Regions from separate parts of the Homo sapiens genome. Here region 1 is linked to region 2. The links come from fine-mapping of genetic effects on gene expression. Tissue or cell type: whole blood. Region 2 holds a variant in brackets; the other region holds the start of a gene. All regions are shown on one strand. Distances are between the middles of the regions.

Region 1 (8,486 bases), 570 kb after region 2:
CCCGAGTGAGGCGGGACCTCCCGAACCTGTCCTCAGAGGGGCTGCTGGCCCCATCAATGACCCCTGAGGTGCGAGATACTCAGGGTGGGAGTTCCCTGCACAGGCCCTGGGAGGGGCGCTGCCCAGCTCGAAACCACGGGGCTCGGCAAGGTGGCTCACACCTGTAATCCTAATACTTTGGGAGGCCGAGACGGGAGGATCGCTTGAGCCCAGCAGTTCCAGACCAGCCTGGGCAACATAGCAAGTCCCTGTCTCTACCAAAAATAAAATAAACCCCATGGCATGCCTGGAGGGCTTCCAGACACTGGGACCAATTCAACAGAGGGGTTCTGGGTGGGAGAGGGGCCCGAGGGGGTGTCCCCACTCACAAGCGCATGGTAGAGGCTGCCAAGAAGGCCAAGAGTAGGAGGCCGGCCAGAGAAGAGAGGATGGAGGTAATGACGATCATGCTGCCACTTCGCCGCCCTGGCCAGGTGTCGATGGATCCGGGGGTCTTCCCTGCACACACACCAGCTGCTCAGAGGGGCTGCCCCTCGACCCCAGGGCTGGCTGTCATCTCCTCCCTCGCTCCCTCCCCACCCACGCTGGCCTAGCTTCAAGGTCTGGCTGTCTCATATCCCCAGGCGCCCCCCTGATCCCACCCCCCGTCCCTCTTCCTCGGGACGGCACAGCATCTGTTCTCTGCCAGCCTGGACCACAGCCTCCGCCCTGCTCCTACCTTCTAGGCTGCTCCCACCCACGTGCTCATCCACTGCCCTGCTCCCTGGAGCCCAGCAGTCAAGGCCTTCAGATGACAAGACTTCCACCCCACACCCCCTGACCTCTGAAGCCGTCTCCCAGGAGACCCCCACCCCCGACACCTGGGCCGTGGCACTCGAAACTTCTGGGCTTGGTACATTCACGCTTGCCCCTTGGGGTCTGCTCAGAACTCAAGCTGGCTGCCTCCCCAGCCAGCCCCGACCCTGACCCTGACCTCCTCCACACCCTCTTCCTCCCTCCCAGCAGGGGCTGACACAGGCTGACTCCCTACAGGAGGGGGGAGGCTGTCTGTGCCCACAATGTGGCAAACGCTTGCGGATGGGCCGAGATGGTGCCCCTGCCGAGGGGGCTGGCTGGGTGCCCCACTCCCCCAGCATGAGGTTCTGTTGGGGGCTGGGCCCGACTTGGACATGGCCTCCAGGCCCCCAGCCCTGTGGGAGCAGGGGTGTGGCCAGCTCAGCAGAGGCGGCCCAGAGAGATCGTGAGTCCACTGGGGGCAGCGCCCCTCCTGCCCAGCGCTACCTTGGTGGAGAGTGATGGGGTCTGACCACTTGGTCTCAGCCCTGGGTGAGCCCCTGGTGTCCATCAGGAGGAACTTCACCCTGGGGATGGGAGGTGGTGGGGGAGGAGGGGAGAGCTTCAGAGGCTGGGACCACCCTGGGCAGGGCCAAGCCCCAGGCAGCTCCTCTGGGGCCCTCCCATGGATGTGGAGTGGGGGTGCCCGTCAAGAGCAGCAGCCCATGGCCTGGCCCTGCTCTGAGAATCCCCTGAGATGTCTCCAGCCACTTGGCCTGTGCCACCACCCCTCATCCCCCCGAGCAATTGCTCTCCAGACACCAGACCTGGGCCGGGGATGCTGGTTTAGGGGCCCTGGTTCCTAAATGTCACAAGCCAAAAGAGCAGGTGAAGGTGGCTTAGCAGGGCACATGGGGCAGGGGTCACAGGCCTCCCAGAGGGGCAGCAGTAGCCGGGGGCAGGGGGCTCAATCACCAGCAGCCTGAGGACCCAGGGCACCAGGAGCCCCGCAGAGGGCCTCGGTTTGTCTCTTTGCAGGGCTGGGAGCTCTGCAAGGCCTGGGAAGCGGGGAAGGACCTGGCAGGTTGGCATTGAAAAGAGTGGCTGCGGGGGATGGGGCGGGGCATGGAGCTGGAAGGCTGAGCCAGGGTGAGGCAGCGGGGAGGGCAGAGGGTGGACCTGGAGAGTGGGTGAGAGGGCAGAAGGGGGCTGGGCGGAGCGGGGTGCTGTTCCAGCCTCACCACGCCCTGCCTTCCCGGCTTCCCCTGGGCCTGGTCTTCCTGAGGTCACCCCGCCTCCTCCTGTGTCCGGACAGTCCTGACCTGGACACACTGCCTGCTTCCCCATCCCGGCTCCACCCCGATGTTGGCAGGCCACTTGACCTCCTGTGCCTCAGTTTCCTCATCTGTAAGAGCGGGTAGGAGCCACCTCTCCTGCTCCCTGCCTAATACCGACGAGACTGGGTCTGAACTCGGCCCCCGAGTTTCCTGCCAGATCTGCCCGTGGTGGGGGACAGGGGCCTAGACTTTGGGGAAGCTGCCCCCTCCCACCTTGACTAAGATCCCGCCTCCCCAAGGTGCCCACCTGCTCCTCCTGGGCCTTGCCCGGCCCCAGCGGGGGTGAGCACTGTTGCTGACTCTACAGTGGAAGGAGCCCGGGCTTGCAAAGGGGAGGACCGGGGCCGGGGACCCCTCCCTGGAAAGATGCTAGAGAGAGCATCCCTGGTCCCAGCAATGCGTCCGCCCCAAGCACAGCCCCAGTCCCAGGGCTCCGGTGGGGACCACCCACCGATAGGGTCCAGGGCCAGGGAGGGGCGCGTTGCAGAAGGGCTGCTGGTGGCAGCCGTGGTCATGGCCCACCCGCAGCACGGGGGCGCCTCCGCTGCCCGCCATGGGGTCGCCACAGGGCAGCTGGTCCGGAGACAGGGGCAGCGTCATGTAGTGGCCATCGGTCAGCAGCTGTGGGGAGGCCGGAATGTCAGCCAGTGTCTCCGGGTTCTGGAAGCCCCTGGAGGCTGCAGGAGGAGAGAACAGATGGAGGTGGGAGGGGAGAAAGCAGCTTTGTCCTTATGAGTGGGGGTTCTGTGTTCGCCCAGTCTCCAGCCCTGACCCCCCATGCCACCTCCTCCCTCAGGGCCCCCAGAGATAGTCCAGACCCAGTCGACTTTGTTACCCCTGAAGGGGAGCTTCCCTCTGGCCTTTTGTCCCCACCCAGAGCCAGGAGTGGGGAGCAGCGGGCAGTCCCAACCTGCCCAGCCCCAGCCCCAGCCCCATTGCAGTGCACCGGCCCTGCCCCACAGGAGGCCACATCCTCCCAGGTCGCAGCCTCGGTTCCCTGTCCAAAGGAAGAACTACTTGGATTCAGAGAAAGGGTTGCAGAGCCCTTGACAGCTGACAAACCCACCACTAGCACTACTCCCGGGATTTGGTGTTCACTACGTGTGTATTTTTCAATACACATATTACCCCTTTAGATAAAGCCCAATTCATCCACACCTACTCTCCCAAAGGCCCCCACAGGGGCTCAATCATTGAAGGCGCTTGCTGGTGAGGGGCTCCTAGGGCCCACCACTCTCCTCAGCCGTCACCCTCACCCAGGCCCCACAGCAGTCCCCGTACCATTGCTGAAGGCCACCACGAGCCAGACGGTATCGCTGGCGCTGGCAAGCCCATCGAAGACACAGCGCGGCTGCTCCAGGGAGAAGGTGGTGGCTGTGACCTTCCCTTCCAGGTCCCAAGCTGTTATCTGTGGTGTGTAGGGCACCAGCTCTGTGGCCACGGGGGACAAAAGGTGAGCCACGGAGACGGGCGTGGGGGTCCCTGGGGCTGCCTCTCCCAATCGGAGGGGGGCGGGCGCCCAGGGTCCAATCACTCCAGCAGGGCCCCCAGCCCCTTGGGTCTGGCTGGACGCGTCCATCCAGGACCCCCACTCACCCAGGCTCAGGCTGGGCCGGAGACAGTTCAACGCCAGGAGGAGCATCTGCAGCCCTAGGTGAGGCTGCCCCCAGGGTAGCCCCATGACAGCTGCCAGCACCCGGGAGGCTCAGGGGCTGGTCTGGCTGCTTCGGGCTGCACCTCACCCCCAACAGCTTGGCCCTGGAGAAGCTGGTTAATCAGGCTGCCCCAGGGGCTGGAAAGACCTGCAAATGTAAGTGCACCCCACCCCCTTCCTCCCAGGCCAGCCCACAGCAGGGAGGAGCTGGGGGGACTCTGGTGGGAGGCAGGCCAGTATCCAGCCCCACTGCCAGGGCCAAGGGAGAGGGGCCACTGGAACCCCAGATGCCAGCCAGGCCATCCCGGAGCCTGGATTGGGGCCCCTCCCAGTCTCTCCGCCCTGGGGAGGAGGGTCTGGCTTTTGGAAACAGGCTCAGGACCACATGCCTGAGATTCCTGTGCCCCAGGTGCCAGGAGCCTCCCTCTGCCTTCTGTCCCCACCCAGAGTCAGGAGTGGGGAGTAGCAGGCAGCCCCAACCTGCCCAGCCCCATCCCCATCACAGCACGCTGGCCCTGCCCCCCACGAGGCCACATCCTCCCAGTTCGCAGCCTGGGTTCCCTGTCCACAGGAAGAAGAACTTGGATTCAGAGAAAGGGCTGCAGAGCCCTTGACAGCTGACAAGCCCGCCACTTAAACACTACTCCCGGGATTTGGCGCTCACTATGTGTGTATTTTTCAAGACATAACTCACATACCTTCACAACCTTCACAGCTCAGTGGCTTAAATATATATATGTCACCCAGGGAGGTCAGTTCACAGCTAACTGGAGCCTCAAACTCCCAGGTTCAGTTAATCCTCCCACCTCAGCCTTCCCAGTAGCTGGAACCACAGGCACACAACACCATGCTCCGGCTAATTTTTAAAATTTATTTAATTAATTTTTTTTTAAGATGGAGTCTCCTTTGTTGTCCAGGCTGGAGTGCAGTGGCGTGATCTGGGCTCACTGCAACCTCCGCCTCCTGGGTTCAAGCGATTCTCCTGCCTCAGCCTCCCAAGTAGCTGGGATTACAGGCATGTGCCCCACGGCCAGCTAATTTTTGTATTTTTAGTAGGGACGGGGTTTCACCATGTTGGCTTGGCTGGTCTCAAATTCCTGATCTCAAGTGATCCACCCGCCTTGGCCTCCCAAAGTGCTGGGATTACAGGCATGTGCCACCGTGCCTGGCACCCCCGCCAATTTTTTTTTTGTTTTTTTTGAAACGGAGTTTTCACTCTTGTTGCCCAGGCTGGAGTACAATGGCTCGATCTTGGCTCACCGCAACCTCCACCTCCTGGGTTCAAGTGATTCTCCTGCCTCAGCCTCCTGAGTAGCTGGGATTACAGGCATGTGCCACCACACCTGTCTAATTTTGTATTTTTAGTAGAGATAGGGTTTCTCCACGTTGGTGAGGCTGGTCTCGAACTCCTGACCTCAGGTGATCCACCCACCTCAGCCTCCCAAAGCGCTGGGATTGCAGGTGTGAGCCACTGCGCCCGGCTGGCCAATTTTTAAAAATGTATTTTTTATAGAAACAGGATCTTGCTATGTTGCCCAGGCTGATCTCTAACTCCTGGGAGGATCAAGCAAATCTCCTGCCTTGGCCTCCTAAAGTATTGGGATTACAGGCGTGAGCCACCGTGCCTGGCTATTTTTTTTTTTTTTTGAGACATGGAGTCTCACCCTGTCGCCCAGGCTGGAGTGCAATGGCGTGATCTCTGCTCACTGCAACCTCCACCTCCTGGGTTCAAGCAATTCTTCTGCCTCAGCCTCCCTAGTAGCTGGGACTACAGGCACCTACCACCATGCCCAGCTAATTTTTGTATTTTTAGTAGAGATGAGGTTTCACCAACTTGGCCAGGCTGGTCTCGAACGCCTGACCTCGCGATCTACCTGCCTTGGCCTCCCAAAGTGCTGGGATTACAGGCATGAGCCACTGCGCCCAGCTGCTAATTTTTAAAAATATAGTTTTTGAGGCTGGGTGTAGTGACTTACGGCGGTAATCCCAGCACTTTGGGAGGCCGAGGTGGGCAGGTCACTTGAGGTCATGAGTTCGAGACCAGCCTGGCGAACATGGTGAAACCCTGTCTCGACTAAAATTACAAAAATTAGCCGGGTGTGGTGGAACGTGCTTGTAATCCCAAGTACTCGGGAGGCTGAGGCAGGAGAATGACTTGAACCCGGGAGGCGGAGGTTGCAGTGAGCTGAGATCGCACCACCGCACTACAGCGTGGATGACAGAGTGAGACTCTGTCTCAAAAAAAATATAATAAAAATATATTTCTTGTAGAGACAGGGTCTCACTGTGTTGCCCAGCCTGGTCTTGAACTCCTGGCTCAAGGGATCCTCCTGCCTCAGCCTCCCAAAGTGCCCAGATTACAGGCATGAGCCACAGCGCCCAACAGCTTTTAGTATATCAACAAGGTTGTGCAACCATCACCAATTCCAGAACCTTCTTACTTCCCCAAAACGAAACACTACACCCATTAAACGGTAACTCTCCATTCTCCCGTCCCCAGTGACGACTAAGCTACTTCTTGTTTCCATGGTTTTGCCCGTAATGGACATTTCATAGGATGCAGTCACACAACATGTGACCTTTTGTGTCTGGCTTTTGTTACTTTTTCAAGGTTCCTCCTCGACTGTGATTGCTTCATTCCTTTTCACAGTTGAGTAATATTCCATCCTGTGAACGTATCACACTTTCATTCATCAGTGGATGCAGAATTTGTTTTTTTCCACTGTGGGGCTACTGTAAATAATGCTGCCATGAGCATCCGTGCGCAGGCTTCTGTGGGCACATTTTCAATTCTCTTGAGAATGTACCTAGGAGTGGAACTGTGGTCATATGCTAATGCTGCTTTCTGAGGTTCTGTTTGCCAAAGTGGCTGCATTTTACATTCCCAGTAGCAGTGGATGAGGGTCCCATTTCTCGACATCCTCTCCAACACTGCTTTTTGTTTTAGTATAGCCATCGTAATGGGTGTAGTGTGGCATCTCATGGTTTTGTTTTTATATATATTTTTTGAGACGGAGTCTTGCTCTGTCGCCAGGCTGGAGTACAGTGGCGTGATCTCGGCTCACTGCAACCTCTGCCTTCCGGGTTCAAGCAATTCTCCTGCCTCAGCCTCCCAAGTTAGCTGGAATTGTAGGTGCACACCACCATGCCCAGCTAATTTTTGTATTTTTAGTAGAGGGGGTTTCACCACGTTGGCCAGGCTGGTCTCGAACTCCTGACCTTGTGATCCTCCCGCCTCAGCCTCCCAAAGTGCTGGGATGACAGGCCTGAGCCACTGTACCCGGCCAACACTGGGGTCTTCTAGAGAGACCTCACTACCCTTTTTACCCTGGACCAACTTACCATTAGGCACAGTGCCCTGGGCCCACACTATAAGAGCTGACATACATTTTTAATTTCTTTTAAAATCAGAAGGGAAAAAAATGAACCTTTAGGTGAGAGAAAATCCTCTAGTATACATTAATATATTCATCTTTATACCAACATGTTGTAAAATAGGTTTAACAGAGAAAGGGGCTCACCAAGGCCAAAGTGCCTCTGCTTTCCACAGCCATGAATGAGGTGGCCCTACCGTCCCCCTCTGGTCCCAGGCCCAAACTACTCCTCCCGGACAAGCAGCAAGATCTTGACTGGGGATATCTGATCCTCCTTCCAAGAGGAGGAAGAATTAGAACTTTGAGAATGGTGTCAGATCAACCCTGGCCTGGATTCCACCTACCTAGCCAAGCATTCAATCTGTCTCTTTTTATTATGATTTTACAGATGGGATCTTGCTCTGTTGCCCAGGCTGGAGTGCAGTGGTGCAATCATAGCTCACTGCAGCCTTGAGCTCCTGGGCTCAAGCGATCCTCCCGCCTCAGCCTCCCGACCGCTGGGACTACAGACAGGTGCCACCATGCCTGGCTTATTTATTTATTTTTTTGAGACGGAATCTCGCTCTGTGGCTCAGGCTGGAGTGCAGTGGCACGACCTTGGCTCACTGCAACCTCCACCTCCCAGGTTCGAATGATTCTCCTGCCTCAGCCTTCTGAGTAGCTGGGATTACAGCTGCATGCCACCACGCCTGGCTAATTTTCGTATTTTCAGTAGAGACGATGTTTTGCCATGTTGGCCAAGCTGGTCTCAAATTCCTGACCTCAGGTGATCCACCTGTCTCAGCCTCCCAAAAGTGCTAGGATTAGAGGCGTGAGCCACTGCACCTGGCCTAATTTTTTTTTTAGAGATGAGGTCTTGCAATTTTGCTCAGGCTGGTCTCAAATGTCTGGACTACAGTGAGCCTCCTGTCTCGACCTTCTGAGCAGCTGGGATAACAGGCATGCGTCACCATGCCTGGTTCAAGTCATTGCACCTTTGAACCTGTTTCCACATCAGTAAAACAGAGACAGCAGCTCCAATCCTAAGTGAATGGCATTTTGTGAACCACAACCCCAGGGCCACAAAGGTGACAGCTGGTGCTCTGGGGTGACAGCCTCTGGCATGGCAGGGAGATCAGTGTAGGGCATGTGGAGGCCGCACAGCCCAGTACCGTGGGCTCCTCCATGCCTGGCTGTGGCCTGTTCTTCAGTTATCAAATGGGAGCCGATGAGCCCATGGAACCCCCTCTTGCTCTGATGCAGGAAGTGGGGGGGGGCACACACACACACAAGTGCGCACACACGCATGCATGCACACACTCAGGACCTGCTGGCTTTGGCTATAGAGCATTTATTGCAAACAAAATT
Region 2 (6,485 bases):
AACATAATCCAGCATATAAACAGAACCAACGACAAAAACCATATGATTATCTCAATAGATGCAGAAAAGGCCTTGACAAAATTCAACAACGCTTCATGCTAAAAACTCTCAATAAATTAGGTATTGATGGGACGTATCTCAAAATAATAAGAGCTATCTACGACAAACCCACAGCCAATATCATACTGAACAGGCAAAAACTGGAAGCATTCCCCTTGAAAACTGGCACAAGACAGGGATGCCCTCTCTCACCACACCTCTTCAACATAGTATTGAAAGTTCTGGCCAGGGCAATCAGGCAGCAGAAGGAAATAAAGGGTATTCAATTAGGAATAGAGGAAGTCAAATTGTCCCTGTTTGCAGATGACATGATTGTATATCTAGAAAACCCCATTGTCTCAGCCCAAAATCTCCTTAAGCTGATAGGCAACTTCAGCAAAGTCTCAGGATACAAAATCAATGTGCAAAAATCACAAGCATTCTTATACACCAATAACAGACAGAGAGCTAAATCATGAGTGAACTCCCATTTACAATTGCTTCAAAGAGAATAAAATACCTAGGAATTCAACTTACAAGGGACGTGAAGGACCTTTTCAAGGAGAACTACAAACCACTGCTCAATGAAATAAAAGAGGATACAAACAAATGGAAGAACATTCCATGCTCATGGGTAGGAAGAATCAATATCGTGAAAATGGCCATACTGCCCAAGGTAATTTATAGATTCAATGCCATCCCCATCAAGCTACCAATTACTTTCTTCACAGAATTGGAAAAAACTACTTTAAAGTTCATATGGAACCAAAAAAGAGCCCGCATCGCCAAGTCAATCCTAAGCCAAAAGAACAAAGCTGGAGGCATCACGCTACCTGACTTCAAACTGTACTACAAGGCTACAGTAACCAAAACAGCATGGTACTGGTACCAAAACAGAGATATAGACCAATGGAACAGAACAGAGCCCTCAGAAATAACGCCGCATATCTACAACCATCTGATCTTTGACAAACCTGACAAAAACAAGCAATGGGGAAAGGATTCCCTATTTAATAAATGGTGCTGGGAAAACTGGCTAGCCATATGTAGAAACCTGAAACTGGATCCCTTCCTTACACCTTATACAAAAATTAATTCAAGATGGATTAAAGACTTAAATGTTAGACCTAAAACCATAAAATCCCTAGAAGAAGACCTAGGCAATACCATTCAGGACATAGGCATGGGCAAGGACTTCATGTCTAAAACACCAAAAGCAATGGCAACAAAAGCCAAAATTGACAAATGGGATCTAATTAAACTAAAGAGCTTCTGCACAGCAAAAGAAACTACCATCAGAGTGAACAGGCAACCTACTGAATGGGAGAAATTTTTTGCAATCTACTCATCTGACAAAGGGCTCATATCCAGAATCTACAATGAACTCAAACAAATTTACAAGAAAAAAACAAACAGCCCCATCAAAAAGTGGACAAAGGATATGAACAGACACTTCTCAAAAGAAGACATTTATGCAGCCAAAAAACACATGAAAAAATGCTCATGATCACTGGCCATCAGAGAAATGCAAATCAAAACCACAATGAGATACCATCTCACACCAGTTAGAATGGCAATCATTAAAAAGTCAGGAAACAACAGGTGCTGGAGAGGATGTGGAGAAATAGGAACACTTTTACACTGTTGGGTGGACTGTAAGCTAATTCAAACATTGTGGAAGTCAGTGTAGCGATTCCTCAGGGATCTTGAACTAGAAATACCATTTGACCCAGCCATCCCATTACTGGGTATATACCCAAAGGATTATAAATCATGCTGCTATAAAGACATGCACACGTATGTTTATCGTGGCACTATTCACAATAGCAAAGACTTGGAACCAACCCAAATGTCCAACAATGATAGACTGGATTAAGAAAATGTGGCACATATACACCATGGAATACTATGCAGCCATAAAAAATGATGAGTTCATGTCCTTCGTAGGGACATGGATGAAGCTGGAAACCATCATTCTCAGCAAACTACTGCAAGGACAAAAAACCAAACACCGCATGTTCTCACTCATAGGTGGGAATTGAACAATGAGAACACATGGACACAGGAAGGGGAACATCACACACCGGGGCCTGTTGTGGGGTCAGGGCAGTGGGGAGTGATAGCATTAGGAGATATACCTAATGTTAAATGACAAGTTAATGGGTGCAGCACACCAACATGGCACATGTATACATATGTAACTAACCTGCACGTTGTGCACATGTACCCTAAAACTTAAAGTATAATAATAAAAAAAAAAGCATGGGCTTTGTAATTATTGAGCTGAGTCTAGGTTCCAGCACGAGCACTAGTGGGAACTTGAGCAAGTTCTTATCTATAAAATCGGGGCGATAATAATACCTCATAAAGTTAATATGGGGATTAAAACATAATGTAATTAGGGGTCTGGCTCATATTAAATGCTCAATGGCAAATCCTATCTATAAGCTACATGTGTAGTAAATTACTCACTTTCTGGTGTTGGATGAGCTGTGTAGGACTATTGGCAAAAGCAGATCTAGTAGTTAATAATGTGCTAATAACCCATATTCTTGACAGAAGTTACTGTGAATGCCGAGAGTAAGGAAACTTTGGGCACCTGGGAATAAGGAAAAGGTTTAAATAAATACTGTATGCTGAGGAGTAAAAACAGTGTCTCAGGAGCAATGCTACCCTGTCAGTCAAATTTATAATAGACTCTGGTACTTTTGATTTCTTTATATTACTAAGCTCTCCATTATATTTATTACAGGTTCTATTATTGTCAAGGTCCCATCTTCACTTCAAGCTCATTTACAGTTATCAGGGAAAGAGGTTGATGTGAACTCAGAAGTCCATGTTCAGGAAATGGCTGAAGCTCGTAAAGATGATGTTGTAACAGTGACTGGTAAGGAGGCTGCATTTTGCTCTGTCAGATGAATAGCCATTCTCCATACATAAGTAGAAATGTGGTACACTTAACGGAAATTTTAGCTTTTTTATATTTTTCCATTATTATGTCCTCATGTTTGACATCTTTTTTTCTTCTAGTTGCTTATCATTAATATGATGCAGACATTTTGTTTAAAAAGACCTCATTAAATCATTTAGGAAGACTCATTAGTCCTGTCATTGGGTAAAATTGATTTTTAAATTTTCTAGAAGAGCTGTTTTCTAATTCTCGAACTTAAACTGAATACATATATTATAGTGCAAAATTTAAAACTAACTTCGTGTGACTGGAGTAAATCGGAATTTTGTTTGGTATGTACATTTTAAACTTGCTCTTTCAGAACAACAAATTCTCAGTAGCACAAATGTGAATCGTTTTTGTACATTTTTCATTATATCTGGCTACAGTGGTGGCTGATACTATTTTTTTAAGGTTTGTCATTGGTTGGTTTTTTTGTTGTTTGAGACAGAGTCTTACTCTATTGCCCATACTGGAGTGCAGTGGCGTGACCTTGGCTCACTGCAACCTCCGCCTCCCGGGTTCAAACGATTCTGTTGCCTCACCCTCCTGAGTAGCTGGGACTACAGGCATGCACCACCATGCCTGGCTAATTTTTTTTGTATTTTTAATAGAGACAGGGTTTTACCATGTTGGCCAGGCTACTCTCAAATTCCTGACCTCAGGTGATCAGCCCACCTCAGCCTCCCAAAGTGCTGGGATTATAGGCATGAGCCACTGCACCTGGCCAAGGTTTGTTGTTTTAATGAATAAAAAAATTAATGCTGGTGAAGTTTTCCTTTAAATTTTACCAGAATGGCATCAAGGAGGACATTGCAATTAGACCGTGTATAGGGATGAATGCTACAAGCTAAATCCATGAGATGCCAACTAGAAAAAGGAAGAATTGGGGAGTAGGGGAGGGTGGTCTTCATAAGATCAAATTTCAGTTTTAGGTATTCATTTTATATGTCGTGAAAATTAAGAAAGTTGTCTGTTAAAATTCATAGA[A/C]TATTAACAAAAAACATAACAGGAATAAAAATAATACCTATACACTCCCAGATATAACTGCATGCCACTTAATGGGCAAACCCATAGTTAAGTGGCAAAAATTTGATGAAAATCTAAGTACAGTCATGCATCACTTAATGACAGAGATACATTCTGAGAAATGTGTTATTAGGCAATTTTGTTGTCATGTGAACATTATAGAGTGAACTTATACAAACCTAGATGGTACAGCCTACTATACACTGAGGCTGTGTAGTAGCCTATTATTCCTAGGCTACACCCTGTACAGCAGGCTACTGTACTGAAAACTGTAGGGAATTGTAACACAATGGTATTTGTATATCTATATATAGAAAAGGTACAGTAAAAATCTGGTATAAAAGATAAAACATGGTACGCCTGTATAGGGCACTTACCATAAGTGGAGCTTGTAGGACTGGAAGTTGCTCTGAGTGAGTCAGTATGATGAGTGGTGAGTGCATGTGAAGGCCTAGGACATTACTACTATAGACTTTATAAACACTGTACAGTTAGGCTACACTAAATTTATTTTTAAGTTTCTTCAATAATAAATTAGCCTTAGTTTACTGTAACTTTTTTACTTTATTTATTCTAGAGATAGCTGCTTTCTCTGTTGCATAGACTGGAGTGCAATTATAGCTCACTATAAACTCAAACTCTGGGCTCAAGTGATCCTTCTGCCTCAGCCTCCCTAGTAGCTAGGTTGCAGGTGTGCACTACCATGCCCAGCTAATTTTTAAAAAGTTTTTAGCAGAGACAAGGCCTTGCTATGTTTCCCAGGCTTGTCTTCAGCTCCTGGCCTTAAGTGATCCTCCCACCTCAACTTCCCAAAGAACATTTTTACTTTATAAACTTACATTTTAAAAAATTTTTTGAGGCTGGGCACGGTGGCTTACGCCTGTAATCCCAGCACTTTGGGAGGCCGAGGTGGGCAGATCGTTTGAGGTCAGGAGTTCCAGACCAGCGTGACCAACATGGTGAAACCCCCATTTCTACTAAAATACAAAAATTAGCCGGGCGTGGTGGCGGGCGCCTGTAATCTCAGCTACTCAGGAGGCTGAGGAAAAAGAATCCCTTGAAACCAGGAGGCAGAGGGTGCAATGAGCCAATATCGCGCCACTGCCCTCCAGTCTGAGCAAGAGCGAGACTCCCTCTCAGAAAAAAATAAAATAAAATAAAAAACTTTTTGACTCTTTTGTAATAATACTTAGCTTGAAACACAAACACACTTTACAGCTGTAGAGATATACTTGTCTATCTTTATTCTGTAAGCTTTTTTCTGTTTTTAAAATTGTTAATTTTTTTAAATTTTACTTTTTAAACTTTGTTAAAAACGAAGACACAAACACACACATTAGTCTAGGCTTTTACTGGGTAAAGAATGTCAGTATCACTTTCACCTCCACATCTTGTCCCACTGAAAGGCCTTCAGGGGCAATAACACACGTGGAGCTGTCATCTCCTGTGATGATAATGCCTTCTTCTGGAATACTTCCTGAAGGACTTGCCTGAGGCTGTTGTATCGTAACTTTTTTTTTTTTTTTTAATAAGCAGAAGATATACACTCTAACGATAAAAAGTATAGTAAATACATAAATCAGTAACACGGTCATTTATTCTCATTATCAAGTATTATGAACTACACATAACATATGTGCTATACTTTTTTATGACAGTGGAGTGGGTTTGTTTACACCAGCATCACCACAAATGCAGGTAGTGCATTGCATTTAAACAACCATTAGGATGGCTACGAAGTCACTAGGTGATAGGAGTTTTTTACCTCTATTATAATCTTATGGGACAACCATCATTTCTGTAGTTCATCGTTGACTGAAACATAATTATGCAGTGTGTGACTGGGTATCAAATATAGTGAGAATCAACTTGTGATCTAATGCTTGAATTTGATAAGGAGCCAAGAGAGTTACCTATTTTTGGTCCCAATAATCTAAAACAATAATACAAGTTTGTTTAACTGTGCTCTGAATCATAGCATAACCAAAATTATTGGCATATGTAAGCATGTTTGAATTATAAGCTAAAGCTATTTTGTCATATTTTTATTCATTTATTCATGGAATCATATGCCTTTCTAAAATTTAGATTGTTTTAAAACTATTCTCACAACTTCAGTCATTATTTCTATGTACATAACTTCCAAGTCAATACATGCAGACCTGATCTCTATTGTTCTTGTGCATTTCTATTCCACTAAACCAGTGCCACCTAAAACTTAATGTTTAAAAACAAAATTATCTTCCCCTAGCCTACCTCTTCCTTCTCCTGTCTTTTCTATTTTTCTTTATTTGCTCAGTTACTCAACAAATGTTTGAGTCAACACTGCCGGAAACTAGGAGTGCAAGGGTAATATAAAGCATGGTCTCACTGCCTTCTGAGGAGCTTACATTCTAGTGAGGAAAGGCAAACCAGAGAATACAGTACAGTGGGATCAATGTTATAAACGTATGTACATTGTACTGTG

What was found. PIP is the estimated chance that this variant, and not a neighbour inherited with it, causes the effect.
Region 1: UPK3B starts here. The variant in region 2 is fine-mapped to the expression of UPK3B in whole blood (TOPMed, PIP above 0.99).

The regions. Positions count from the first base shown.
Region 1 is chr7:76,505,959-76,514,444 of GRCh38, reverse strand. It overlaps UPK3B (uroplakin 3B), which reads right to left and starts at 3,893. Exons shown (of 6, transcript NM_001347684.2): 1 at 3,708-3,893; 2 at 3,393-3,542; 3 at 2,563-2,788; 4 at 1,282-1,361; 5 at 369-498. The coding sequence starts at 3,792. It overlaps LOC124901675 (a long non-coding RNA gene), which reads left to right and starts at 3,712. Exons shown (of 2, transcript XR_007060388.1): 1 at 3,712-3,921; 2 at 4,337-6,264. It overlaps DTX2 (deltex E3 ubiquitin ligase 2), which reads right to left. Exons shown (of 11, transcript NM_001102594.3): 11 at 8,454-8,486. RefSeq lists enhancers at 576-1,225, 1,226-1,877, 1,878-2,529, 3,283-3,855, 3,856-4,428 and a silencer at 5,306-5,511.
Region 2 is chr7:77,080,328-77,086,812 of GRCh38, reverse strand. It overlaps the pseudogene FAM185BP. Among named protein-coding and RNA genes, the nearest start is that of SPDYE18, 21 kb to the right of the region's middle. The variant A/C (reference allele first, on the strand shown) is at 3,980.